Linked DNA regions of Homo sapiens: region 2 is linked to region 1. Evidence: fine-mapped expression QTL. Tissue or cell type: prefrontal cortex. Region 1 holds a variant in brackets; the other region holds the start of a gene. All regions are shown on one strand. Distances are between the middles of the regions.

Region 1 (15,465 bases):
CTTAACTTCCATAAGGGCAGGATTGCTGCTATCTTTCTCCATATTGTTTCCCCAGCGACCACAATAGTTTAAAAAAAAATTTAAAAAGTCTTATCTCATGACAGATTAACACCACAGTAGTTTGTGGGACATGCTGGCTCTCAATATTTAAAACTAATACTTAACAGAGGTGGGAGAAAGCAATACATAAAGATAATGTTGTTGAGGGAAGCATAGACATTGGAAACCAGGGAAATAGCCATGGAAGTTTCTGGAAAGGTCCAGGGACCAGGACAACTTAATCAGAAGGATCCAGTCAAGGTCATCCCACTTGAAAAGTAGCAGCTTCACTGGAAGTGTCATGGCATCTTTGGCATGTTATTACATAAACAGTTCAATACTGAATTTTAATAATCTTTGGAAAAGAACAAAATGTAGCCCCCTGTGGCCCATGCCCCTTCCAGTGCATTGGCCCAGTGTGGCTTTTCCAGGCATCCCACCCAAGGGGCTGGACATCTCTCCTCCATGACCTTGGAAGGCCTGTATCTTACAGGAACACATGTCCCTAAGAGCACTACATGGATCTAGCCCCATTGCTGCAGGTAATTTGATTGCCCCTCGGTGTTTAGTTTGAGTTAGTTTTATATGAAGGTTTCCTTCTCTCCCCCTTTTCCATTTATTCCAGTCAATAATACTTTCTTTAAAATAGAGAACCTGTATGCCAGGTACCGTTAGGATTTGGTGATATCTATCAATCAACGGCACCAATAGAAAACAGAGGGTACCCTCAAACTGAGATGATTCCGAGAGAGTTTGCACAGCAGGGGCTGTTCACACTGTGCGAGTGTGGGGGAGCGACAAAGACTCGTGCAGTCGCTGGAGCCAGTAGTTGGTGCTCCCCTGACAGCTGCAGAGCCCAGGGCAAGAGTACAGATGGAGGCCCATGTGCTCCGAGTCAGAATATTTCAAAGTTATAACTCAAGCAACCACATTGTTGAATAAAATCTGTTCTGTTCTCTACCTCAACAAATGGGGCACTTATGTAATGACTTTGAAGGCCAGGTCTGCACATAGAATTATCACATTCTCTAAGTTACAGACCATACCACCAGAACATGGAGGTGAGGGATAGACATGTTGCCCTCAGTTCTGCAAACACCTTTACAAGCTCATGGCCAGACACCCTAGGCCATGTGTCCAAACTCCACTCACAGTTCCACAAATAACTGCCCCACTGGCCCTTGGGTCTGGGGTCACAGTTCCCACCCACCCTGAGACGGAACTGAGGATTGGACTTGAACAGACCCTGGAAGCTGGCTTGGGTCTATCTGAATGGGAAACCTGAGTTCTGAGTACACAGTGTGTTCTACAAGTGGAGAGCTCAGTAAAGATTGGTCAGGACCCATGTGCCTGTGTCGGAGGACCACAGCGATAGTACCAGCAGTGCTAGTAGTACCAACTTTCCTTGCTAGGAATGGAGGGAGGAGGCAGGGCTGTAGACTGCTGCCTTTGAGCAGGGGTGATCTTCTTTCTAGAGGCAGTGTCATCTGCAGGTAACCTTGCAGCAAGGGAGCAAAGGGTCATAACCTCCCTGTGATACCAAAACTTCCTATTGGCTACACCCAGCCAGAATCCAGAGGGCTTGAGGGTTCTCATGATGGGGCTCTCCAGGCCAGAAAGCAGGCAGAGATGTCAGCGGAGTGAATCTGGGGGTGCAAAGTAAAGATACCAAGCACAGGATGCATCTGTGAAAAATACAGCCCTGGGTCCTGGACCTCACCCACAGTCAATGCTTTACCAATGCCAGTAAAAAAGAGTTTGGCAGTGCCCATGGCCTTAATGTTGTCTGGGCCTCAGGGAAAGTTCAAGGGGAGCCTGGAATCTGCTTGCCCTTTGACTTTCAGGATTTTTAAGAGTTGAGCACTTGAAGCTACTGGGAGGAGAGGAGAGGCACAAAGGTAATTAGCTACAGTGTTAATGGATGTTGTCACTTGCATGAGTCCTTGAAATAGTTGTATATAGGACATTGTTTAAAATTACTGTATGACTTTTCATTATTTGTATGAGCACATTGCTAATTAACACAAGTAATCATCCATACAAATGGATATTTATTGTACACCTGTTTTGTGCAAGGCACTGTGCTAAGTCTGGTGGGGATGTTCTGTGCCCCAGGAGCTTAGAGTCTAGATTTGGCTTCCAGCTCTCTGATCCTTCCATTCTCTGAGATTCTCCCCATTTCCCTTCCCAGCCACCCCATCTTCTTAATTCCTCTGGGATCTAAGAAAAAATGAAATAGAACAGGAGATGGAACTAAAGAAAACTTCTCTGGGTAAGGTGGGCCAGCAGAGAGAGAATAGAAAGGAGATTTTTAAAAGGGGCAGGGTGGCCGGGTGCAGTGGCTCGTGCCCGTAATCCCAACACTTTGGGGGGCTTAGGTGGGGAATCACTGTAGCCCAGGAGTTTGAGACCAGCCTGGCTAACATGGCAAGACCCCATCTCTACAAATAAACCAAAAAAACAAAAATTAGCTGGGTGTGGTGGTGGGTGCCTTTAGTCCCAGCTACTCGGGGCTGAGGCAGGAGGATCCCTTGAGCCCAGGAGGTCAAGGGTGCAGTGAGCTGTGATCACACCACTGCACTCCAGCCTGGCAACAGAGCAAGACCGTGTCTCAATCAGTCAATCAATCAATGAATAAAAATAAATAAATAAAAAGGAAGGGAGCAAAGTGTCTCACAATGTAGTACCCAGGGAAGCAGATGGAGCTCTGGAAGGAGGAGGAGAGAGGTGATGAAGAAGACCATGAATTAGTGAAAAAAAAAAAAAAAAGAAAGAAAGAAAAAAAACATGTAGTAGGAAAGGAAGGTCTCACCTTTTGAGCATGCATTCATTTTTTTAAGTACCCATACACTGAATATCCTTGTCCTGGTTCACTGAAAAACATTGTTACTGAGCTCCTGCTGTATATACTGGAGGTCTCCAGTGTGCACAGATGCATCTCCCACAGATGCATACTACCTAGTCTCTCTGTAAGATTATTTTGATGGTCCCTGGAAGCAGTCTTGTTTTTTCAGGACTAAGGTGAAAGTAACTTAAAATTTGCATTAATCAAAATTAATGAAAGGAAATCCATGATGAACAAAATATCAACAATTTATATAAAGGCAATATCAATATCCTAGGGCTGAAACAACAGATCATTTATGTTCCTATCAATAGTGAAACTCATATAGATTTCTTATAATTAAAACAAAAGGAAGGGTATAGGGAAAGACACCAGCCAAGGCAGTCTTAACTATTCACAGTCTGCTCAGTTGTGCAGGCTCAGTTGAAACAGCTGGTCTAGGGTCTGTGGCCGCTTTAGGGATAATTCTGAGGTGGGTTCGTGCTGCCATCTAGTGGTCATATTGCATTATACGCCGTCTTCACTTCTGGAGGCTCTCTTGGGGGAAAACGTGATAAACCTGAAAAGATCCAGGTCAAGGAGGTAGACGAATGTGAGAAATTTTCCGGATTGACAGGTTTTTGGATGTAACCAATTATTTGATATTCTGGTTTTTTTTGTTCTCTTAAAATACGAATTGGAATCCTCTTATGTTTGAGGAGCTGTGCTAGATGCTGGATATGGTCTGGTGAATATGCATGACCATGTCTTTGTCCTGGGAGAGCTCCTTGAAAGAGTCCAATTCACCCACCAGCCCATTTCATTAAAAACAAAGAACCCTGGAGAGAGTTGGAGAAAGTAAGTGATTGGTTTAAAGTCACATAATTAGTTAATTGGGGAGTCAGCCTTAGAATCCAGCTGTGTAAGCTTTTCATTCTATACTGTTGTCTTCTCACCTTAACAGAAACTTGTCTTTAAGATGTTGAGCCAAGCATTTAAAAGTTACTCCTCCAAATCCTTCCTGAGAGGAGTAGTTGTAGCATATTTCAGATACAGCTGCATTTCTGCTATTAACTCTCTAGTTTAAGTTATAGCAAGCAGTGCTGCTAAGAAACTTACTGCATAAGTACGTAAGAGTCAAAGTGATACAAAATTGACAAGAGTCATCTTTGTTAAATGTAATTTACTTAACACTAGAAAAAGGGAAGTGATAACTTACCCTTCGTCCTTGTGCCAGCAAGGGTATCTTTTTTTTTTTTTTTTTAATAACTGAGCTGCTTCCCATTCCAAATTTCATTAAGACCCTGGCTTCAAGGGATCATCAATGATCCCTTCTCCTACTAATCTCTTGAAAGTAGCTTCATTTTTCTAGGTGCAGGGCACTATATGTTCACCAGCAATACTTCTTATATTGAGTTTTTTTTTGGTGGGGGGGGACAGGGTCTTGTCTGTCACCCAGGCTAGAGTTCAGTGGCGTGATCTTGGCTCACTGCAACTTTCACTTCCCAGGTTCAAGCAATCCTCCCACCCCAGCCTTCTGAGTAGGTGGAACTACGTGTGGTCCACCACTATGCTTAGCTGTTTTTTTTTTTTTTTTTTTGAGATGGAGTTTTGCTCTTGTTGCCCAGGCTGGAGCGCAATGGCCCGATCTCGGCTCACCACAACCTCCGCCTCACAGATTCAAGCGATTCTCCTGCCTCAGCCTCCCAAGTAGCTGGAATTACAGGCATGCGCCACCATGCCCGGCTATTTTTTTGTATTTTTAGTAGAGACGGGGTTTCTCCACGTTGGCCAGGCTGGTCTCGAACTCCTGACCTCAGGTGATTAGCCCGCCTCGGCCCCAAAAGTTCTGGGATTACAGGCGTGAGCCATCGCGCCCAGCCTGCTCAGCTGATTTTTAAAATTTTTTGTAGAGACGAGGTCTGACTATATTGCCCAGGCTATGTTGATGCTACTTGTTCAAGATAAAATAATAAAATCTAACAAGGCGAGATAAAAAATTTTGATTAAGTGCTAAGTGGCATACATATTTAATATATACTGTATTTAATTTTTATTATAAAAGCTTTCAAACATACACAAATATAAAGTTTGCAGTGAACCCCAATGTATCCATCACCCAACTTGCCGACATTGGCATCACTCATTTAGCAAGATTCTGCTGTATTGTTTTTTCTATCCTGTTTTTCTTCCTTTTTTTCTGAAGAATTTAAACAAATCACAGACACTTTACCCTTATTACACTTTACTCTTAAATAAAAAATTAAAATTCCTCAAAAATATGGTTCTTTGTTTATATATAGACAGTCATATGCTGTATAATGAGGTTTTGGTCAACAGTAGAGTGAATATATGATGGCAGTCTTGCACAATTATTATGGAGCTGAGAAATTCCTATCAGCCGACTTGTTACTGCCATTGTAGCATCATAACTCAATGCATTACTCTTGTGTCTGTGGTGATTCTGGTGCAAACAAACCTACTATGCTGACAGTCATATAAAAATCTAGCACATACAATCGTGTATAGTAAATAGTCCTTGATAATGAAAATAAATGACTATGTTACCGGCTTATGTATTTACTATACTTTCGATCATTATTTTGTAGTGTACTCCTTCTACTAATATAAAAAAATTAACTGTAAAACAGCATCAGGTGTGTCCTTCAGGGGGTATTCCAAAAGAAGGCATTGTTATCACAGATGACAGTTCTTGCATGTTATTGCCCCTGAAGACCTTCCAGTGGGAGAAGATATGGAGGGGAAAGACAGTGATGTTGATGATCCTGACCCTCTGTAGGCCTAGGCTAATGTGTGTTTGAGTCTTAGTTTTTGATAAAAAATTTTGAAAAGTTAAAAGAATTAAAAATAGAAATGAGCTCATAAAATAAAAATAAAGAGAGAAAATATTTTTGTACACTTAGACAATTCATTTGTATTTCAGGCTAAGTATTATTATAACAGTCAGAAAATTTTAAAAATTAAAAGGTTTGTCAAGTAAAAATGTTACAGTAAGCTAAGGGTAATTTATTATTGAAGAAAGAAAACAATTTTAAAATAGATTTAGGGTAACCTAAGTGTACAGTGTTTATAAAGTCTACAGTAGGGTACAGTGATGTCCAAGGGCCTCACATTCACTCATCATTTACTCACTGACTCACCCAGAGTAACTTCCAACCTGCAAGCTTTATTTATGGTAAGCAACCTATACAGGCACACCATGTTTTATCTCTTATACAGTATTTTTACTGTACCTTTTCTATGGTTAGCTATGTTTAGATACACAAATACTTACCATTGTTTTACAATTGCCTACAGTATTCAGTACAGTAACAGGTTGTACAGGTTTGTAATCTACCAGCAACAAGTTATACTATATAGCCTAGGTGTGTTGTAGGCTATACCGTCTAGGTGTGTGTAAGTACACTATGATGTTCACACAATGATAACAGTGCCTAATGACACATTTCTCAGAAGGTATGCCCACTGCTCAGTGATTCATGACTGTATATATATGCGTACACACACACACACACATACACACACACACACACATATATATATATGAATTTCTAGATCTATATAGAAATTGGCTAATGCATGATTATGGAGGCTGAGAAGTCCCAAGACCAGCAGTTGCAAGCTGGAAACCTGGGAGAGTCAATGTATAGTTCAGTCTGGAAGCCAGCAGACTCAGGATACAAGATGAGCTGATTTTCAGTTTGAGTCGGAAGGCAGAAAAAGAACAATGTTCCAGCACCAGAAGTCAGGCAGCTTGAGATCACCGTATTTTGGGGGAGGTTCAGCCTTTTTGTTCTATGTAGGGCTTCCACAGGTTGGATGAGGGACACCCCCACTGGGGAGGGCGGTCTTCTTTACTCAGTCTACTGATTCAATGTTAATCTCATCCAGAAACATCCTCACAGACATATAAAAAAAAATTTGACAAATGTCTACACATCCTGTGGCCTAGTCAAGCTGACATATAAAATCACCTGTCACAGTAGTGTCTACCAGATTTGTCTTCTACAGGTGCTGTTTCCCTGGGGGAATGAATGAGGATTCCGTGTGTGATATTCTGTGACTGTGTCAATGTCCTGCTCCCCAGCATTTTATCCAATGGAGTCATAGAGCTTAAACTGCTAAAAGGTGCTAGAAAGTGCTTGGGTTAGTTGAAAAGAGATAAATAACTTCCTTTAATGTTAAGAACTTCCTACAGAGTCCAGTTCAAGGTCAAGATCCAGACTGGAAGGCTAAGGGTCAGAGAGCGATATGAATCTGACAGAGTGACAGTCTTGAGCCAGGCAAGGGCAGGCATGTGGCTCTCCCGACTGGTGGCCCATGCTCATGGAAACCCAGATTTGAGGAAAAACTGTGGGAACTTTCAGGTTGCTCTTCAAACTCTCCCCAGAGCAAGGGTGCCAGGGCTCCTGAAGAGAAGGTAGGAGAGGGTGGTTACTTAGCTCAGCAGGAGTCTGAGATGGTGAATGTAGCCCTGGCTTCAGCTTGGAGAACTCTGGGACAGTTCCAGGGGAAAGGACTGTCACTCTGCTGCATAGTGACATCTTGTTTTGCAAATAAGTGCATTAAAGGGACTGGTTCTGGGCTTTCCATCTCTGTCACTGTATGCATGGAGCCTGGGAGGTGGGACAGATCTGTGGCAGGAGAACAGGGGCCAGGAACCATCTCCTTGTCCTGTCCTATTCATCCTCAGAACTATAATGGACCCCAACAGAGTAACCCGCCTTTGCAGAGGAACGAACTGTCTGAGCACTAGAAGACTCTTTTTTTTTTTTTGAAAGAAGCTTTTTTCCAGAATTCCTCCTCTCAAATAAACTTTGTTGTTGTTACTGCTGCTGTTTTAAGACACTATATAGGATTTTTAGCGAATCAGTGTCACTCACACTTCACGTTACGGCCTTCTGAATGTCTATTTCATCTTAGGTGATTTACATATCCTTTTTTCCCCCTTACTACCTCACATCCACTACTGTACCTTCCAGTTGCCTCCAATTTTTCGGCATTTTATACATTTAAAATAGAAATGTCACACCTTTTATTTTATCCTCACAATAACAAGGAGATATTGTTGCCAGTTTATTTTCTGTAAACTGAGGCAAAAACAAGTAAAATAACTCATTGAAAATTCCAGAGCAACAGCCCAGTTTTCCTGAACATCTGTCTTGTGAGAGGCACCCACAGCTGTGTCTCTGAGGGGCATCTTCATATTTTGCAGACTAGAAACTTCCATTATTGTCCTTTACTTAGGCTCAACAGGACTCAAGTTACTTTTCTAAGCAATATCTTTTTCTTTTCTTTTTTTTTTTTTTGAGACAGACTCTTGCTCTGTCACCCAGGCTGGAGTTCAGTGGCATGATCTTGGTTCACTGCAACCTCCGCC[T/C]CCTGGATTCAAGCAATTCTTGTGTCTCAGCCTCCCAAGTAGCAGGGATCACAGTTTTGACCTGGGAAGTATTGGAAATAGAATACATATAAATAATTATTTTAGTATGCCAGTTGTTCTTAATGTAAAATATTTGGCTCCTTTTTTGAACCAACTTGGTTCTACAGGCAAAGAAGAACCAGATTATTGATTTCTCAAGTCATCCCTTTGTTAGTGTTTGCTGGAGTTACCTGGAAAAAACTTGCATTTAATTCCCTCTTTGCCATTTCCTTGAATGTCCAGGCATGCACCTCACACCTGGCTAATTTTTGTGTATTTTTAGTAGAGATGGAGTTCTGCCATGTTGGCCAGGCTGGTCTTGAACTCCTGGTCTCAAGCAATCCACCTGCCTCGGCCTCCCAAAGTGCTGGGATTGCAGGCATAAGCCACCGCACCTGGCCAGCCATGTCTTTTCATGTTGATACATTGAAAAGTTTGCTCAGCTCTGCCTTCTAAAAGAAACTACAAAAGCCGTTGCTATGTCCTTCCCTATTTATGTTTTAAAAAGTTTTGACCTGGGAAGTATTGGAAATAGAATTAGGGGGAAGATCCATCCCAGGCTACCTTGTACATAAACTGATGTACAAGAAGTTCAAGCTAATTTACGAGAAACTTTACCTAGGAAAAGGGAATGAAATGTATAAAAATAAGTTATACTTAAAAAAATAAGTAAAGATTACAACTTTGCATAGTTTTAGAATGAGCAAAGATAGATTCTTCTCCATGAAATGGCCTTTTGAGTGTGGAAGGGTATACGAGATCACTTGTATAATACTTCATTAATCTTAATTATTAATCAAATGACTAGCATTTTAAAAAATAAGCAATTATACTAAATTTTAACATACTACTTATGGAATTTACTTTAAAAAGAAATTTTCCCCCAACATGTAAATAATACTTGTACATATAAACACTCTTAAACAATTAAAATCACAAGTTTAGGGCTGGGCACAGTGGCTCACGCCTGTAATCCCAGCACTTTGGGAGGCCAAGGTGGGTGGATCACTTGAGGTCAGGAGTTCAAGACTAGCCTGGTAAACATGGTGAAACCCCATCTCTACTAAAAATACAAAATTAGCCAGGTGTGGTGGCGGGCACCTGTAATCACAGCTACTTGGGAGGCTGAGGCAGGAGAATCACTTGAACCCGGGATGTGGAGGTTGCAAAGCCAAGATCACACCACTGCACTCCAGCCTGGGTGACAGAGCATGGCCCCATCTAAGAAAAAAAAAATCACAAGTTTAACAGATCAGATTACCTTACAAAGATTAAAAATCTTTCAAAACAGACCAAACACAAACTAACCAGGGTTCTAAAAGTGCTCAACACACTTACCACTAGAACAATTAAGCAGACAGTTTTATCCTTATCTTGATTTTCACCACAATGTTTATCCTCATTTTCATTTATTCCTGAGGTTGCCTCCTTAGGCTTTCAGTAAGCAATACATTTACTAACCCAAAGTAAAAAGAGATGTGGCCTCAGACCAGTAGAAGTTACAAGATTTGGCTGTCCAGTTCAAAACTCTTGGGTGGGTGTGAGACCTGCTTATTTAGTTCAGGAGCTTCAAGCCTGCACACTGATCATTAGGTTGAGTGTCTATTAATAATCAGGGCTTTCTTGTTATGTCTTCAGCCCTCATCGGGGATATAGGCTTTAATTTTTTGAAACTAGATGTCTTCCCCAGAAATAAGGTATCCTTCCAGCTTCACATGGTCCAGTACATAGCCATCGTCCTAACATTATGATTCACTGAGCTACTTTTTTTTAGCATCATTAGACGTGTGTGTTCCTTATTAGTATATTATAAGAATTTGTGGGTTATCTAAAGGTTTTGGCTCCTAGGAGATGAGGAAGTCAGTCTGCTTTATGAGCCCTCCTCTTTGGACCCTCTTTCTGTTTTGTCATTTGCAGCACATTGTTGAGCCTTCTTTCTACTTGGTCATTTTGTGTGACCATCAGAGGTTAAATGTGGGTCCGCTGGTTATTATACAAGACCAGAATATTGATCAGCCCTTCCTGTTCTTGATAGAGTTCCTTCTATTTCTGTGTTAGTTCAGCTCACTCCCAATTATTCTGTCCATTCTTCTTTTCTACTTACCCTGAACATATATATTATATACACACATATTTATAAACTAATATAGCAGCAAAATTTGTGCATATAATTCATATATGCATATGTATGTACATTGGTATACATATAGGCATATATACATCCCTTACCTCATGAAATAATGACAAACATAAATCCTGTTTTCATTCTTCTTTTGTATTATAAGTTTCCTTTTTTTTACTATTTCTTTTAGCTTTTCTCCTTTGACTTTGATTTTGAACTCAATCTTTCATAGATCAAATCATTCCAATTACCTAATACTATTTTTATTTTATACCTAACACTAATTTTATTTTTATTTAATTATAATGTAACAATAATAATTATTTAATATTTGAATTATCACAACTTTTCCATGAGAATTCCCTTAAGTCAGATCCTTTGATTTTTTAATCATTGTCACTATATTTTTCACATTATCCTCATTTTCTGGTACCTGCAGGATGTTCCCAACCCATTCTGAGTGTTTTCCTTTCGCTTACCAATTCTGAGTTTCCCCTCCCCACCACCTCCTCAGCCATCAGCCTTGCTGGCACAGGCTCTCCGTGATCACACCTGGGGCCCTAGGCAGTCCCTCTCTGCAGCTGTCTGTTTAGACACCTCCAGGGCAGGATATGGAATGGCTTTGCCTGCAATTCCAGCAGATCCACCAACGTCACTTTCACTGGCACCGTGAAAGCCTGCATCTTTTGCAAGACTTATATCAATTTGCAGCATGTAGCACTATACTGTTCAACATTTCCAACAGCAGACTATCTGGGGAAAAATTAATGAACAAAGCCTTGGCTTTATGTGGGGATGGACCCAGCCAGGAGCACTCCTGGAGTGGGGACTAATTTTTATAAGTTGTCAGATTACTAGTAAACACTTAATGTTATGGTGATTTTTGCTTTCCTAAACAATCTGGCATCTTCAGGAAGTCACACAATGAATGCTGGGTTAACAAAGATCTATTATACTAAATAAATCTAGTGCGCTAAATTTCAAGACTTTTAACCTAACCCAGCACTTAAAATCTAAGATTAATAATCAAGTAGAGTGGGCATTGGGAAGGCGTGAGCCACATTCCTGGGATCTTCTTTCTGAGACTGGGTATTGCCCAGGCTGTGAAAATAGGCAGACTCATGACCTGGGGCTTTCCTGTTCACACCTCAGCTCTTCCTGCTGGTGCTCAGCCTTTACTGGAGAAGGTAACTCGGTCTTTTCATCTTTTGAAGAACATGAGCACCCAGTAAGATGTCAGCAATACACATTATCAGGTTCTTTTTGCCTTCTGGTATCGGACCAGACCTGATGTGAGCTATTATACAGAGACCTTAGTGTAAGGACATCTCCCTTGGTAGTAAGCGCTGGGCTTTGATGATCTGAAGAAAAACTGAGCTGCGTCCCAGTTCTAGAGTTCCTAGAGAGAGCACACTCCCTCTCTGGAGATTCTATTTTTCCTGTAACTCATGGCAAAGTGGTCCCCTGTGGATTTTTTCTTTGCCAAGCTTCTCCCAACTCCACATCCCATTGGTTTTGCCCTAATTGTTATTTATTTAAGATAAAAGAAAATGTAATCCTTATGCACCATATTCCATAAATTTAACTAATAAAAATGTTGTTTTGTAAGAGCCTTTTGAAGTCCAAGTAAACTTTGGAATCATTTTTATGAGACTTTAAAAATCTTTCTTCTTAGGGGCAGGAAGTTATATTTTGCCAAGAATAAATGAACTCAAATAGCAAAGGGATTGGGCTTGACATGAGGTGCCAAACCCACAGTGTTTCAGTGGCTTCTGAGCTGGGCCAAGTGCGTTTTCCCAGTCCTGAGAGTCAGGACTGGTATCTAAAGTTTCAGACTAACATGTTATTACTTATAAATAATTATTTTAGTATGCCAGTTGTTCTTAATGTAAAACGTTTGGCTCCATTTTTGAACCAACTTGATTCTATAGGCAAAGAAGAACCAGATTATTGATTTCTCAAGTCATCCCTTTGTTAGTGTTTGCTGGAGTTACCTGGAAAAAACCTGCATTTAATTCCCTCTTTGCCATTTCCTTGAATGTTCTTACCTTCTTCATTCATAGTAATTTAAGATAATGTAATTTTTTTCCATGCCCACATTCTAAAACATTTTTAGGAGTGTTTCCAAAAAGAGAAGTGATGATAAAACAATATAATTAATGTTGGAAGCCATGAAAAATTCATAGACACTTCAAAGAGAGGATCAAGTTGTGTCATATGAGGGCTTATCATTCCCAAAGAAGCTTTTATGAAAGATGAATATGAAGCTGGGCGTGGTGGCTCACGCTTGTAATCCCAGCACTTTGGGAGGCTGAGGCGAGCGGATCACAAGGTCAGGAGATCGAGACCATCCTGGCTAACATGGTGAAATACTGTCTCTACTAAAAATACAAAAAATTAGCTGGGCATGGTGGCGGGTGCCTGTAGTCCCTGCTACTCAGGAAGCTGAGGTAGGAGAATCCCTTGAGCCAAGATTGTGCCACTGCACTCCAGCCTGGTTGACAGAGCAAGACTCCATCTCAAAAAACAAAACAAACTAAACTAAAAACAAACACACAAAAAAAGATGAGTATGAAAATTAATTAATAGCAAGTTCAGTTGTCATTTTAAGACAAGTTATTGATTTAAAAACAAAAATATTTCACCCGCCACCCTCTTCTCCACTTGCCGGCTCTTCGCCCATCAACAGAAGGTTTTCCAATTGTATCTTCTCGTTCACTGTCTCTTCCTGCTACCTCTGAACTTCTGTCACACATTCTATTTCAGTCTTGCTTATGGCTGCTGTTATCATCACCATTATTTTGTGCTACCACTTCCCAGGTTCTCCGTTACTCCAGATCTTTCTCTCAAAAACTCAGGCCTGATGGCCTCTGTTTTTCTTGAGTTCACTTCCTCTGTCAGTCCAGGATATCCTGTCTTCTTTCTTATCCCCTAATTCCAGCCCTACACACTCCCCAGGCACAGCCTTCCTGTGACCCTTGTCCCAGCCAGGCAGGCACCAGATCATTAACTTTAGATTTTCTGACCACTCCTCAAGGAAAGATGGAAGATCTTTTCCTTGGCTCCAGCTAGGGATGTGAACAGACACCTTCCCCACCCCCTGCAGCCCTCTCACTAATAGGTAGTCAGGATGGCAGCTTGCACCTAGGCATCTGGTGAATTCAATTCACTTCTCTCAAGTAATCACTCTGCAAGGGCCCACTGTGTGCCAGGCACTGGGCCATGTGCTTGGTAGGCAAAGATGAATCAACTAGGGGCTGATTATTATCACAGGATGCAATGCAAAGCAGCCTCCTGGAAGAGGCAGTGGTGAATTCTGCTGTGAGGGGTTGGCTGGGAAGGCTTTCAGACGCAGCAATGCTTGTACTGGATTTGCATGAGAAGGAGAAGAGAAGACAAGAGGAGACCATTCCAAGAAGCGGTAGCCACTTCTGTAAAGGCGTGTAGTAGTACACAATGGGGGTGTGGTTGAGGAAATACAAGTAATTATGTTTTAAAAGAATGACAGTGACAAAGGGGAGGCATAGTGACAGCCACCCAAAGGTTTAAGGGAGTGATGTGATTTGATTCCTCTGGCGAGAAGGTGGTGGTTGCACTGGGGAGAAGGGTGTGGGGAGGACTGGAATAAGGCTGACCAGAGAGGACACTGTCATAGGCAAAGGAGGTCACAGGCTAGAGAGTGACAGTAGAGAGGGGAGGAGGGGCAGATTCAGTGTAATGAGGGGTGCATGACCCACCTGGTACCTTGCAGTGAGGTTAGGGTGAGGCAAGCTCCTGCGGAATTAGAAAATCTCAGGCCATAGTTTCATTCAGGCCTGGAGAAGGTTGTAACATCTTAATCCTCAACTAATTCCCGCTTTGCCAGAACGCTATAACCTATTTATAAAAGTACCCTTGTCAAGGATACTTTTGACCTTGTTCTATGAGAAATACACACATGCATCCATATATATGCATACAGAGTATGTGTAAGATATATATATAAATATAAATATATATAATATTTATAAAACATATGGATTACGTATGCCAGGGTTCTCCAGAGAAACAAAGCCAAAAGGATGTGTGTGTGAGTGTGTGTGTTGTGTATGTGTGTGGAGAGAAAGAGAGTGTGTGTAAGAAATATTTATTATAAGGAATTGGCTCATGCCGTTATGAATATTGGCATTTTCAAAATCTGCTGTAGAATTCAGGCCTTCAACTGATTAAATAAGACTCGGCCACATTATGGAGGTTAATCTGCTTCATTCAAAGTTTATTTAAAAAAAAAAACCTTTGCAGCTACATTTAGACTAATGTTTGACCAAACAAATGGGCACTGTGGCCTAACCAGGTTGATACAAAATCACAGACACTTTGCTTTACCTTCTTCCCATGTTCCCCCACAAAAAGGTGAATTCTGGCTTTGTGTTTGTAATTTTGTACTTATCTGCAACTTTAGACTAATTCTCAGAGTCTGAAAGAATAAAGATGTTTTCTAAGAATAAAAGCATTATTTGTATATTTGCTTCTAACCCTATATTAAATATCTAAACTGCATTAATTCATTAAATGCATCTTTTTACTCATACCCTTTTCTTTAAGTATTTCTTATGTGCTATCCCATTAACAATGGATACAGTAAGAATTATCCCTGTTTTGCTGGTGATGATCTGTCCAAGGTCCCTGGCTGGTGCACACTTTGCTGTCAAACGTTCTTGTTCTACCTCACAGCAGCTTTTGCTGATTCCAGCGTAAAGTTGCTTCTGTTTGTTCTCAACAGTTGTCCATCTCGCTGATGACTTATGAGGTATTTATTTTGCCTTGCATCTTTTGGAAACTTCTGAAATAGTCCTTATTTGTCAGTTTGCCAGTCCCTTGCCTACGGAGTAAATTTTAATGAATTTACTTGGGGAATTTAATGATGCCTTTATTTTTAAATTTTTTAATTTTTCTTGAGACACAGGGTCTCACTCTGTTGCCCAGGTTGGAGTGCAGTGGCACAATCATGACTCACTGCAGCCTTGACCTGGGCTCAAGCCATCCTCCCACCTTAGCCTC
Region 2 (15,465 bases), 74 kb after region 1:
AGCACTCTGCATCTGCATGGCTCAGACACTACTGCACACAGCGTAGGAGTTTGTCTTGTGTTCCACATCATCCTTTGAAAGGGAATAACTCTGCACTTCACATATATACATGTTTATGGCCTAACATGTCCCACTGTCCTAGGCCTTTGTCTTAACACATTACATCCATTGTTTCTACTTTCTACTGGTTGAGTGAAAATAGATGGTTACATCAATGCATATAGTAAATTGATGGTGGCCCAGGTAATCAAAAGTCTTGAAAAAATAATTTTAAGAAAAAGATGCACTTCATACAACCTTTTTTTTTGACTTTCAAGAACTCTTAGTTTAGTAAAAGCTACTCACTACTTTTAAGAGTTTTCCATTTCATTCAACTGTTCACACTGCTGAACTGAGTGACATGGGTGCCACTTTTCTTGTAGAAAGGAAAATATAAGATTTACAAATATTTTCTGACATTTTTGATAAAATGTACAACATAGTTTAGTTGAAGAAGGCATTTCCTACTTAATGCATTTTAAATTATTTGTGTTTACTTTTACCTCTTTCCTATAAATCTGTAGTCATTCTGGCAAGCTAAGTAATAGGCATCCTGGTGGTTACTGCTCATTAAAAGGGAAACACAAGTTTGACTCGAGGGAGAGGGCTTAGGTGGGAAAAGCCATTCCTTATACAGTGATGGTCTTCACACAGTATGGTGATAAAAGCTCAATGGAACTACTCTGGGTCATTCCTTTATCATCATTTGGTGTCGTTTTTCCTTCTTCATTTGCTGATAAAGCATATTTTCTAATGCCAAAGATGGATTACTCCTGCTATACCTGAATTACAAATACAAGGGCTGTATCAGATGCTGTTGTTTTAGCATCAGTGTAAGCCAGAATAAGTATTTAAAGATATTGCAGTAATGATCATTCATAGAAAGAAAGTAGAACTTTGTTAGTGTCTCTGTGATTTAGAATTCAATGAAGGAAAGAGCTCCCAAGGTATAGAATTATTATTGCTTTTTAATAGCATCTGAGTAATTTTCATTTCTTTTCTTTGTCCTTCAAGTGTAAGAAAATATCAAGAATATTCCTTCCTTGTGGGATAAATCTCACCTACTTTTTTTGTAATTTTTGCTTGCTTCTTTGGAATGGAACTGAGTCTAGGTAGTATAGTTACATTAATGTGGGCAGTTTGATTTTTAAAAAAGTCATTTAGTCAATGGTCACCACCTAGTTGGTCAGAATGTTCTCAGGGTGATATAGTAAGTGCTGGCCATAGTTAACTTAATTAGCTGACAAACCATGAAACCTCTTGGTCACCTAGTCATGTAGACATGGTATTAAACTACAGACCACTGATGCATATATCTGAGAACTATGTGAAAGCTTTTATTGACTAAAGGAAAGTTTACAGCACAGTGAAATTATATTACTTAATCTGTTAAGTTATGTGTTTTTATAAATACTTTGGAAATATCTCTCTGGTTAGTGCTAAGGAAATCTTCAAGTTAATATTAAAAAATTCACCAAGTTAATGGTTTTCAACCATATTATACCCAATTATCCATCACAAAAATATATTTTATGATGCCCAATATAGTAATCTTAAATGAAATTAACAGATAATACTTACCTACTTGTGCACATCATTGAAAGAGGATCTATGATGTTGTAACTGTAATATGTAGGAAATATAAAAGGGAAGTATATAAGGAGATACTATGTATGTAAGCTGTAAATGCTCTGACACCACTATTCTAGTAGATGGAAATACACACTATAAGTCTAAATTGCCACTTAGGTACAGGATTATCCCTCCTGAGAACCATTCCAGGAGTCAAGGGGTTTCCAGTGGTCTAAAAATATGTCTATTTTGTTCTTGCTCCATACCAGTTCTAAACATGGCATTTGGCATGGAGTAAGTGCTCAATAAACATGTATACCATGAATGTTGAATGAACAAAAGAAACAAAACAAATCTTTCTCCTGCAAGAATTTATTTTCTGGTTAGAATGTCAGGTCAGTTCAGTAACACACAAAGCGAGGGTTCCTTGGTGCCCATGCATCCCAAACGGGCTGCGTGGTGCATGCTGTGGGGAACTTGAGGATGAAGGCACCTACCCTGACCAGCTGTGAGCTGAGAAGGACTGCTGTGGTCTCAGGTCATCCAAGCAGCAGGCCAGTTATGCGTCTCAACTACACTCTGCTCAGCGCACTTCTGTGCCAGGTACAGGCCCAGGTGCAGGGGACAGATAGGTTAATAAGGCCCTGTGCTCCTGCAACTGCCATTTGAAGGTGTTTCCAACATCAGAACGTGTCAGAAGCCCTTCAGGGATGGTTAAATGAATATTCCCAGGCCCCACCTCAGAGATTCCGATCTGCATTTTAACAAGTTTCAGAAATAAATTGTGATGTAAGTGGTTCATGGACCTCACTTTAAGAAACATCAAATGAGGTTGACAATAAACCTAAAATGTGTTCTTTATGAGAATTTTCAATATTTGGGAAATGAATGGCAACCATGGGTGAATGTTGAGAATTCTTTTGACAGGAAATTTCTTACATTCATTTTATAAATCAAGTGAATGCAAAAGATGAGAGTGTATGTTTTTAAAACTTCATTTATAAGACTGATGCTGTTTGTAAGACATTATTGTTTTAATATTCATGTGATAGTAAAAATGGTCTTGATTATATGTGATGCACTTATATTTGTTTTCTTTTGTTAGTATTGCAGATGGAAAGGTAAATGGAAATATATTGAGAAGTATAAGATGGTGTTATAAGGCAGCTTTTAAGGTTTCTAATATCTTATAACACCATCTTACACTAAGATTATTTCTAGAATTTTAAAAAATCACCTTAAAATTCCTTTTTAAGAAACACCTTAGGATTAGCCAAAAGTGTTTATGGTTTATCTCCTTAGTTTAAGATTTTATTTTTATGTACCTTGTACCTTTTATGTACCTTGTCTGAAGTTTTTAACTGTAATCAAACTGTATGTATTAAAAACATACACTCTTATCTTTTGCATTCACCTGATTTATAAAATGAATGTAAGAAATTTCCTTTCAAAAGAATTCTCAACATTCACCCATGGTGGCCATTCATTCCCCAAATATTGAAAATTCTCACAAAGAACATATTTTAGGTTTTTAAGTGTAATCAAGTTTTAAACTGTAATCAAAATAAGAGTATATCTGATGATACATGCCCTTTTAGTAGTATATATCTGACAATATTTTAAATATAGGTAGCTATCTTAGTTACAGAGAAGCCTACATACCAAAGACTAATACACGTTTTTTGACTGTATATATTTGAATGCATTTTTAAAAATGTAATTGGGTGAAAGCAGAATAAAAGACTTTCCAAGTTTTATTATGTATATTTAATAGCTCAACATAAGGGGGTAAATGGACAGTTACTCTGGTAGAAAAAGACCTATAGCTGCGGATAATTCCATTATATCTCCCTCTAGGCAAGGGGACCCACCCCCACTGATGCCTCCACACACTCCCAGGCCTCATCCTCATGAAAACAAATCAACCAACCAACCAAAATAACCCTAATTTTGAATCACAGATCATTAGCATTACTTACAACCATATTCAAATTAATCACAAATTCACATAAAAGCAATAAATTCATAGGTCAATTAATAGCTTTGTCTACATGATGTCAAACAAGGGTTTTATTACTATTTCTGAACTGAATGTTTTCTTTTTTAAAAATCTAGTTTCAATGCTATGAATACTTAGCTTTTTAAAAATCAAATAATTTACAGGGCCACGAAGATTATAGTTTTCTTCTTTTAAAATTAGTAATCATCTTAGCACATATAAAGTAAACAAAATGAGAAAACAAATGTTCAGTTTATTGTCTTAAGCTTGCAAATGATAAGAAGGCTGCCTTTTTATTCTTTGGAATAGTTCTATAGGTTATTAAGATAACAGAGGACTAGATGAATCTTTAGTGGGGTACGTATTTACAGAAAGTTTTCTAAAAAATGCTTTCTATGGAGAAAATCTTTTTGCTTAGATGTGCTATTTTGTGGGTATAAATTCAACTGGGTAGAGAGTATTCTGAACAAATCCTGAGTTGTTCATTTGTTAAATTTGATTTCCTCATTTTTTTATTTTATATATGACCACTGAAAAACTACAAAACAAAAATTTGGTTTAATTTCCATTTAGATCTTTTCCAAGGAGACTCAGTAATAGAAGTGAGCAAAGGTCACATTTTTGAAAGAAACTTTCTCTTTCTTATGTATTCTCAGAGTGTTGCCATCATTTATAAAGATGACCCAGCACATGTTATATTCAAATAGAAAAATGATTATAAACATCAACATGTGTAGATTTCCATAGACTTCCTGATATTCACAGGATGTGTAATACTCAAGCATCAACGTGTAGATTTCCATAGACTCCCTGATATTCACAGGATGTGTAATACTGAAGAAATGAGGTACGGTTACACACACACAGGCACACACAAAAGACTCAAGCAGAGCAGAGTCACGAGCAGTGGACAGTTGAGTATGGGACTGACTCAAACGAAACTGATAAAGTGAAAGTGTGTGAAGGCTATGCCTGGTGAGATCGGCCCATGGTTACACCAGATACAATAATAGGACACAGGCGAAGCTCCCTTCTGCCTCATGTTGCACTGAGAGTCCAAGAAAGTTTGGCAAGTAGACCCTGAAGTCCTGTCCAGATAATCCAAAATCATCACCCATGGAGCTTAATTCTGAATTTCCGCCCCAGACGAAACTCCGATTAAATTCAATGAGTGTTTCTCATTTTAGAAAGTTGTGCATGTGCATGCCATATTCTTTTCTTAGATAAAAACATACCCACAGCTCCTTCCATACAAAACGAAACCAAACACATTTAGAACACATGTAAGCCATTTCTCTATGGGAAAGGCCATTTGTGGTTAACACAGAAAGTATTTATGGTTTCACTGTTAATTGTGGTTTCTTTGTATTAGCCAAAAAAGGTAGCGTTTTTCATGTTAGAAACAGTATGAAAGCAATAGCCTTTCTAAAAAATATCCGCATTTTCTGGGGCATAAGGAAGTAACTGAATTTATGATATCTTCTAAACACCAAAGGAGTATATGCAACATAAAATTGTGTTTTCAATTTGAATAAAAGTTTATTCAAAATTATCTTAATTGTACTTTTGTACATTTCCACAAGATAAGACCATATAATCAACATTGTATATTTAAGGCATTTGATTTTTTATTTGTATTTGTTATCTAGGAATAATAACATTTATTTCTGAATCAATGCTATTCTTGTAAATTATTTCCTTTCTTCTGAAAATTGTTAATTTTACAACGTGCATGTTTATAAACGTGGATTCATTTACCTAAATCAGTTGGCTGACCTGCCTAATCCCTTCCCTCTGTCTTCCTCTTTCTCTCTTCCTTCTTTCTTCTCCCCTACTCTCCTCTCCCCTCCCCTCTCCTCCCCTTCCCCTTCATTCCTTCCAAAATGCAATACTGCATTTTGGCAAGGATTCTATAATGAGAGTGAGTGCATTCAAGAGGTTAATTACATGTAAAAACAGTCAGTTTCATTAATTCGAATGTACTATACATTTTTGGGGCCTATATGTTAATATTTTTTAACAGACATTTCCACAAGTGCTGCATTTTAACATCTGAATGCATCATGTATATATTATTAGAAGAGGGAAAGAAGAGACAATTGTGATTATTAGGTCAATAACCAGAACACTTAGGAAGATTAATATAGCAAGCAGTTTTTTGTAAGTACATTGGCTTTTATTACCTACAGGAAAGAATATATTTTCTAATTTCATTATTATGCAATTTAAAAAATTTTAGAAGAAGCAATATATAAATATTTGATTATATCTTATTAAATTCCATAAGAAAAAGAAGCCATCAAAACATGACCCTAATTGTCTCTTTCTGAGTGTGAAAAACATTCTTTATGAAAATGCTTGGAAGTGTAATTTATCAATTTAATCACATACATTTATGTATATCTCCTGAGTGTATGTGAAATTGAGTCTAAATGAACATTTTATGATGTTAAACGCATTTTTCCAAAGATCTACATTTATTCAAAGATCATGTAAAAGGCTGTTAATTTGGATAAATACTATTCTGTCCATTGCTAAGTATTTATAAAATTCTGAGTTTAACTTAAAGACATCAAACATATTGGTACATTTAAATTGCACCAGTATTCGTTTCTAAAAATCTTTAATAAAAAATGTAAAGGTTTTGAATTATATTTTGTCTCCTTTCTCTTACAAATGGAAAATTAAACTGGAATATATTGTTATGTATGAAATTTATTAACTATGATGAGGTTATATACTATATAACTTTCTGCCTCTCAAATATTATTGTAATATATTTTATATAGTGTGTAATATTGAATCTTAGTGTAGTAATATATTTTGACATTTATAGATTTATATATTTTTAAATCTATTCATAAACATAGGATATGTTTTTCATGTCTTTTTGTGATTTTTAGTTTGAAAAACATAAACATTTTAAGCGATAACATTCATAGAAGGCAAATACTTCTCTGTGGAGTCTTTACAAAAAGGAATAAAACCTCAAACTAGAATTCATTTAACTTCATTTTAATAGATATGTTACGTTTTATTTTTGTTGCCGACATCTGAAGTAAATAATTTCTGAATCCAGGTAGTTGTTTTTGCACAGCAGAATAAAATATCTTTTTTACTATTTTACTATTTTCATTTGTATTCAAATATTGATATGAAGTAACCAAAGAACAAAACAGACTTTACTAATACATTCTTCAGTTGCGGGCAATCGGTGGTGAGAGTCAAAAAGAAGAAAAGTCCAAACAAAGGTTTTTCATTTCTTGCTGTTTACAAATATGTAAAAACAAGAATTCATAGTGTCCATATATTTCCTAGCCTTTAGTGTCACATTTTGTTCAGCAAAGGTTTCTTACCTTTTTTCATTGATGCCTTATTGAGAATCCTGAAATACTGCTGCTCAGTTCTTTCCTCTTCATCTGCTTGCATTGTGCATATCAGTCTGTAGGGGGCACTCCTCAGCTACCACAAAGACTTGTGATAAGTCCTTTCTGTGGTCTGAAATGTATTTAATACTCATTATTTTATCAAGGCACTTAGTTTAAAGAGAATTCATAGTTTATCTTTAAAGCATATATAGCCATAATTGAGGAAAAAAACCCTCAGTTTCAAGATGGGCATTTGGATTTCCGAGGATGTTAATAAAAATTTACAAAACTGCATTGAACTTTGGTAAATTAGTACTTTTCAGAGCTTCCTTCTTTCTATTCTTTTCTTGGAGCTCAGGGTGGATTTTATAATACCCAGACTTTTATTACTATACCTCGAGTCTTGTTGTCTCTTTGCCTTGAGGGCTCCCAGAGAGCAGAATGTAGAGTGATCATGATTTACATGTGGGAAGAGGAACCACAGAGTTTTTACATAGAATTACATGCCCTACACTGGAGCTTATAAACAGCTTATCTTTAACGGGAGTGAAATATTGAATTTAAGATTGTGTGTGGCCTTCTCTACTCCCTTTCCTCCCTTTCTCCTCCCATCTCCAACAGAATCTACTTGGGTGGCAATTCTAAGAACCCCTTCCATAATAATGACGTGGTCCTCTCACATGGCTGTATCTTCCAGGTTCACATCAGCTGTGGGTGCAGCTGCTTTGGCTTATTATAGATTTCCATAGTTACCTCTCAGAGAGACCAGCAGCATTAACTGGTCCAACACGTTGGGGGTTGACTTTCCACATTCAGCCTCTTACTTGCCTCCGTGCCAGTGCTTCTGCGTCCTGCTGTTACCATGGTTGTACTCTACTCACCCTCTTTGAGACCAGCCCCTCCTCTTGATCAGAGAGCCCCTCACTCCTCTGGAGCCTGACACTGGATGCCACTTCAGCAGTTGCTTCGTCCTTTTCCTTATCATCAAACGTTCCCTTTCTCTGCTGTAATTTCTCCTATCTCTCTTCACCCCACTTCTCCTGCAGCCTCTCCATTTCTCAATTCATTTTATTTTTTATTTAATTTTATTTTTTTTGAGACTGGCTCTCACTATGTTGTCTGGGTTGGTCTTGAACTCCTGGGCTCAAGGGATCCTCCCACCTCAGTCTCCCGAGTAGCTGGGACTACAGGCATGCCCCACCGCACCTGGCCATTTTTCAGTCCATTTTAGAGCAGAACCTCTCAAAGGGCTGTCTGTATCTGATGTCCTAGGCTTTCCACCCCTCCTTCTTTCCTTTCCTGCTCCACTGATGCTCTGTTCCTAAAATCAAGGACCTCCATGATGCTAAACCTAATGGTCAGTCCTCAGCCCTCATCTTTTACTTTATTTTTTTTATTGCTGCCTCCTATACAGTGACTCAGCCCTCATCTTGATTGACATAGAAGCAGCATTTTATTTTTCCCCATAGGGGATCACTCACTCCTCTTTAAATGATTTCTTTCACATGGCTCTGGTTGTCTTCCTCCCTCACCAGCAGCTCTTATTCCACTCCTTTGCTAGCTGTGTCTCATCTTCTTTTAAAAAGCTTAAAAAATATATATTTTTTTAAATGAAGATGGGATCTTGCTGTGTTGCCTAGGCTGGTCTGGAACTCCTGGACTCAAGCAATCCTCCCAGCTTGGCCTCCCAAGGTATTGGGATTACAGGTGTGAGCCACCACACCCAGCCTGTATCTCATCTTCTTGAACCCAGGGAAGCTCAGGTGTCTCTCTCTACACTCGCTTTCTAGGTTAATCTCATCTCTCAGGCTTTACATACTGTCTATATTCTGAAAAATCCCAATTTTTTCTTTCCAGCCAGGACTACTTCCCTCAACTCCTGGCATGTGTATTTAACTTCTTTTTCACTGGACATTGCTGTTTGGATGTCCAACGGGCTTCTCAAACTGATCTCCATCCTAATCTCACAAAACAGGCCACTTCTTAACAGTCCTTCCTGTCTTAGAAAAGGGAATTTTCTCAGGATAAAACCTCAGTTTTAAGACAGTAATCCAAGCCGCTGTCATCATTTCCTGTGTCCATTTCTCCTCACTCCAATACACCGACATCAAATCCATAGAGGTTAAATATCAGTTCATTTCAGTCCCTTTCTCAAAACCCACCAGTGGCTCTCTACGGAACAGAGTGACGGCCACAGTGCTGTTAATGACACCAGGGCTCTACTGGATCTGACCTCTGAGATGCCTCTTGGCTTCTTCCCTTACTCTGCTCCCTGGCTCACTTCACGCCAGCCACATGTCCCACTTTGCACTTGCTTGATAATCCAGGAAAATCCCTGCCTCCAAGGGATTTGTTATTTTCTCTTCCTAGAGTGCTCCTTTCCCTGATACCTTCATGACTCACTTCCTCACTTGCATAATATCTTTCCCCAAAGTCATCTATGTACTGCGTAGGTGTCTCTGACCACTCTTAAAAATAGCAGCCCTCAGCTGGGCGCGGTGGCTCACACCTGTAATCCCAGTACTTTGGGAGGCCGAGGCAGGTGGATTGCCTGAGGTCAGGAGTTCAAGACCAGCCTGGCTAACATGGTGAAACCCCGTCTCTACTAAAAATACAAAAAATAGCTGGGTATGGTGGTGCACGCCTGTAGTCCCAGCTACTCGGGAGGCTAAGGCAGGAGAATTGCTTGAACCCAGGAGGCAGAGGTTGCAGTGAGCCAAGATTGTGCCACTGCATTCCAGCCTGGGTGACAGAGCAAGACTCTGTATTAAAAAAAAAAAAAACAAAAAAAGCAACCCTCCCTAGTGGACTCGGCATTTCACACAACTTTCTGGCTTTATTTTTTTCCATGGCACTTATCACCATCTGACTTGCCATATCTCTCACCTGTGTATCATCTCTTGTCGCCATCCATGTGTACGCCCCAAAGGGCAGGGGTTTTGTCTGTTGTGTCTGCTTTTGCTTCCCCAGTGCCCAGAGAGATAACTGACATGCAGTAGGCTCTTCGTAATAGTTGCTGAATGAACAAACCCATTTTAGCATATCATCTGTGAAAGGATTTATGTCCAAATTTGGAACTCAGCCAGGATTTGAATTGTATTTTGTCTTTTCTGTTTCAAAGCTTGCTTTCTGGTTTAAATTAGTTCCTCAAAGTGATGCTACTTTATCTTGTGTTTGCACCCTTTGTTTTCTTCAGTTGACTTTGAATACATTGGTCTTTTTGCCTTTAATCAATATTGGATGCAATAATTTTTATTTTTTATTTTAAAAATCTTTTATTTCAACATTCAGCCAGATAGTTGAAGATGTAGTAATTTTTGGAGGCCTCACCATCCCCTCCCCTTTTGGGGGCCATTTTTTTTATGGGATTAGGAATTTTGGGAGTTTAGGAAAGTCAAACTTCATGAGGAATTTTTAGTAAGGAAAACTTTGGGTGTTTTCAAGGACTTCCCCACTTTTGGTAAAATGATAAATCTCTCCTGACGTAAACAAACTTTCTTGAGGAAAAACTTTTTTGTTTTTAATAGAGAAAAATTCTGTAAAAGGCTACTTTTGGGGTATTTGGTAGAAGCAGTTGGTCACAGGCCAACTACTTAATTTTCTTGCTCCTCTCTGCCTTCTCCCAATACCCCAATAACCTCAAGGTTATTGTGACCATATGGGATCACCTTTAAATATTTCATCTATAAAAGGTAACTTGTTTAATTCCATGCATCAAATTATATGAAGAAATTAATTATGTGCATCAAATTATATGAACAAATTGTGCTACCCTATCTAAGTAAATGTAGAAAAAGCTGTGGAAAAAGAAATCAACATTTGTTTAGGTCAAGCATTGTGCTAGGCCTTTTTCATACATCAACTTTTTATTTTTTTTTTTTGAGACAGGGTGTCACACTGTTGTCCAGGCTAGAGTGCAGTGGCATTATCACTGCTTATGGCAGCCTCGACCTCCCTGGCTCAAGCAATCTTCCCCACCTCAGCCATCTGGATAGCTGGGACTACCGATGCATGCTACCATGCCAGGCTAATTTTTTATATTTTTAGTAGAGATGGGGTCTTGCCATGTTGCCCAGGCCGGTCTTGAACTCCTGGGCTCTAGTGATTCTCCTGCCTCAGCCTCCCAAAGTGCTGGGATTACAGGCATGAGCCACTGTGCTCGGCCTTAATACAACCCATTATACAGACAAAGAAATTCAAATTTGGAGAAATTGTATAAGCTTCCCAAGATCTTACATCTAGAAAATTAGAATACTGGGACTCAGAGATTTGTTGGTTTTTCAGACTTGTGTTTAAGAAGCTACTTAATTTGCTATAAACTCTGAAATGATTTTTAGGTAGTTTTCAGAAAGCATTATGGGTGTATCCTAAATTTTCAGAAAGTATTGTTGGTGTATCCTAAATTTTTAAACTTTCTTACATAGCCGTGTGAGATAATGATGATTATTTATTGCACTGGGTCCTTTTCTAATCTTTTACAGGCATTAGCTCTAATTTTTACAATAACCCCAAAACAGTGGTGTTATCATCATTGCTATTTTACAGAGAAGAAAACTGAGGCTTATGGAAGTTAAGTAATTTTCCTTATGTTAAAGATGCTGATACCTGGGCTTCTACCTAAGATGATACATCAGATTTTTACATCTTTTACCCCCTCACCTTATTCAGACATCTATTCAAATATCATCATATCAGAAGGGCCCTCTCTAACCAAGCTGTCTAGATAGTTCTGCCTCTAGTGGGTGTCCTCTTAGTCTGCTTAAGTTTTCTTTAAAACCCATTACCACCTAGACATTATATATTTATTTATTTGTTGTGTGCCTTTCCCAGCTAAAACATAAGCTATGTGAGAGTAGAAATGTTGTCTATTTTTATTCTCTGCTGTATCTGCAATGCTAGGATACACAATAGTAGACACACAATAAATACCTGTCAAATGAATGTGAACAAGCGTGGCACTGAAAATGTAGGTGGTAAAATCAGATTAATGTTGGTGAGTTGAAAACAGGAGATAAAGGATTCTTTGAACAAAAGAGAGTACAATAGAGAGGACTAGAACAGAATAGAACAGTCAGATAAGAAAGATTGAAGAAATGTTAGAATTTAGGTCCACTTGAAGACAAACCTTGTGAACATTGAAAGGAAAGTCATCCTTTTACATAAGGCAATAGAATTTCTAGAAGAAAGTAATGTATATTTTTGCATCGTAGAAGAGTAATAAAACTCTCAGTATCTGTTGTTTAGAAAAGTCAGATTTCAAAGTAAAGGAGTATTCAGAGCCTGGACTGATACTTTGACTGGGGAATAAAGAAAAAAACAGACTATTTTGGGGGCTACTTACAGGAAGAAGTTTTGGTTGTAGAGTTAATCTGAAGATGTAAGCTACTGAAGAGTTGATGATATTTCTAATATTTTATACTTAAAGAAAATGGGACATTTTACTTAGTTTTTAGGCAGTTGCAGAAAATGAATATTTCTTGAAAAATAAGTTAGGAGGTTTGCCATTGACATATTGTTTTGAGAATTTTAGTGAACTACTTTGTTCATAAGTTTTCCTTGTACCTGTGGGGTGGGGGATAGATTTGAATTAAACACAACATGATAGCACAAAGCAGCCTTTGACTGTCAAAAGCTGGTGCCATGTTTTTTCACTCTCCCCATTCTGGGCTTTTCTATGTTCTTTTCTTTATCTTGTTTTTCCTTTTTGTTCCATCTTCAATGCAATAATAATAAAAAATAATTATTATAATAAAAATGATAATAACTGTTAACATTTGAGTACTTTGTGCCAGGCACTATTCAAAGCACTTCACATTACTCAATGAATTTAATTATCTCGTTAGCTCTAAGAGGTAGGCACAATTATCACACTCATTTTACAGAGGAAATTATGACACAGAGACAGCAAGTCACTTGCTAAAGGTCACACAGCTAGTGAGTGACCCAGCCAGAATGACGAACCCCGGAAGATGGTTGCCAGGGTCCATACTCTTAACCACTAAGCTACCTGTTTTTTTCCTGATGACATTATATTTACATTGAGCTTTTAACCTTTGTGAAATGCTGTTACATACACCAATTTTCTATTTTCTTCCCCTGCCATGGCTTGCCACTGACATTACTCAGCTCCTGCACAGCAACTAGATGACACTTGGCATGAAGGAGCTTCCCTGCCTTGGCTCTCTAGGCACAAGTCATCAAGAAGTCTTTGAATGATTAAGTGATCATTATTACTTGATCATTTAGCAGAGAAAAATCAATCAGAGCCCTTGGCAGAGGCAGCTTTTAGGAGAGATGTTTAATTTTGTTGATAGGACTTAAGCAGATAGAAAGATGTATGCATGAATGGAAAGTATTAAAACCCAAGTCTTTAATGGTAGGGAGAGGTGCAACAGGGGCTCCATGTGCCCTTTTTTAGGAGCTGAGAAATCCTGAATGTACTGGATTGTGGAAGAGTGGAAGAAATGTAGCATTTGAAAATTAATAAAAGAGAAGAAAATAAAGTTCTTAAAAAATGTCAGGGAATATATTTCAGATAATAGTGGAAAGTTTGGTAATTTAAATGAATAAATATTAAGAGGCAAATATATAATTAATCACAGCTAATCATCCATCCATCCATCCATCCATCCATCCATCCATCCATCCATCCATCTACGAAGTCACATTCTATACACTTGGCAACTGGAGATAAAAAGGAAAACAATGAATTGATCAGGAATGGCATTGCAGGCATCCTATGAATCATTTACTTTAACAGAATTAAAAAGACATTTCTTTTATTGGAAATAAAATTTTCAATATTGTTACAATTTAATATACATGGACACTATCCCACATACGTTATCATTGTCCAGTTTTCTTGTCTAATTTCAAACATGGGGCTCTTTCTATTCCTCATGTTCAATATTAAGAGCATGCACTGGCTGTGAGAACTGACATGCACAAATTTGGGTCATGTTTGAGGGGGAGAATGATGACCCAACCTTTATAGGTACATACTTATGACTGATGATAATATAATCTCTGCTCCCTGGAAGTCGTATATACGGTTTGGTCTATATTGGGAACTTGTCCATAGACAGGTAGATTTCTTTTCTCATAAGCCCTCCATAGTTGTGGAGAACCATTTAGGAACATGTAAAGACAACTGTGAAATTAACACATTGTGAAAGGCACTTGATAATAGTGAAACTAAAATCAAAGTTACCTCTGCCTGGTGCCAAGAGAAACTTATCCACAGAACTTTGTATGTCTTATGGATCCAGCATGTGGTATTAAGTGAATATTTGTTGAAAGTTTGGCTATAAAAATGAAGAGATCTTTTCCTGTGCAAGAAGAAGCATTCATGCATTCTGTGTCTTTTAGACTGGAAGCATGCATTTTGCTATTCTCAGCTTTACCTCTCTTCCTTTGTCATAGCATTTTCTTTTGCACATGTACACCATTCTTTGCCTGCTACATAACAGATGTGTTTCTCAGCTCGTTCTTCGTAGAGCTAGGCCATATTTCTGAAATTGAGCTTGAGTTTATCTTTACAGAGTTGTTTCTTCTCGTCTTGACTATAGTTTTTTTCCAGGACAGCATGACTTGGCAGGTATTTGGGAGTGTCCACGAGGTCTGTAGCTTTCTGTATTGTAACAAGCCTACATTGTGTATGAAGGGGCACACTTAATAGCCCAAGGCTTCTGTGTTGTTGATCTGCATTTCATTTGCATTAATTTTTAGTGAGGGGGGAGTATTTTTATTTATTATTTTTTTGCCCTCATATGCCTAGGACTATAGACTTTTCGTTTTCTAGGCATTACACAACAATAATAGAGGCATGCTATATGTGATACCATGACAGCATGACTTCAAAATGACAGGTTTTTTTCTTCCATTTAGGAAAAAAGTCAACTCCTTTTTGTTGCTCTTCTTCTGAATCCCATTGTATGAAAGAATAGTGACTAATATATAAGGCCGATAAGGGATAAAGAAAAGCTCCTGAAGTAGACTGTCTTATCTAATATGATATAACACTGAGATTTAGGTGGGAGAAGAAAACAGATGTAAAATGGTACCTAGAATAACATGGAGCAGGAGGGAGGAAACTGTTCCCAACAGGAGGCAATTAAGTGTTTGCTGTATACTATGGGTCCAACTGAACCTTTGACACTTTTCCAAAGGGGAAGGCAGAAGGGAGAATATAAATGGCTACCAAAGCTAGTGGCTGGCTTTGGAATGGGCATCTCATATGGTCTCCATTTAGCAATGCTGTAATAAACCAATGAATTGCTATGACATTTTGGAGGGTTGGAGAAGTGCAACATAGAAATACAGAACACTTTGGAAGCAAAATCACCATTCATCCCAGACATGAAGAGGTGCTAGTCTGACAGAGCCTGTATCTTCCAGTGATATCCAGACTGTGGGCTGAGGATGGGTTTGCCATGGTTAAAATCAGTACTCCAAGACTTGTGTGTTTAAAATGGAAAAAAGACTGGT

Which allele goes with the higher level. Positions count from the first base shown, and alleles are read on the strand shown. Sizes are in standard deviations (SD) of each study's normalised expression.
For the expression in prefrontal cortex of the gene that starts at base 7,588 in region 2, allele C in region 1 goes with a lower level than allele T (moderate effect, 0.72 SD a copy in ROSMAP).

Evidence for each region.
Region 2: it holds the start of LINC01923, and the variant in region 1 is fine-mapped to the expression of LINC01923 in prefrontal cortex (ROSMAP, PIP 0.95).

The regions. Positions count from the first base shown.
Region 1 is chr2:198,293,492-198,308,956 of GRCh38, forward strand. LINC01923 (long intergenic non-protein coding RNA 1923) reads right to left here. Exons shown (of 3, transcript NR_110267.1): 3 at 5,872-8,325. Among named protein-coding and RNA genes, the nearest start is that of LINC01923, 74 kb to the right of the region's middle. The variant T/C (reference allele first, on the strand shown) is at 8,265.
Region 2 is chr2:198,367,510-198,382,974 of GRCh38, forward strand. It overlaps LINC01923 (long intergenic non-protein coding RNA 1923), which reads right to left and starts at 7,588. Exons shown (of 3, transcript NR_110267.1): 1 at 7,374-7,588; 2 at 6,967-7,108.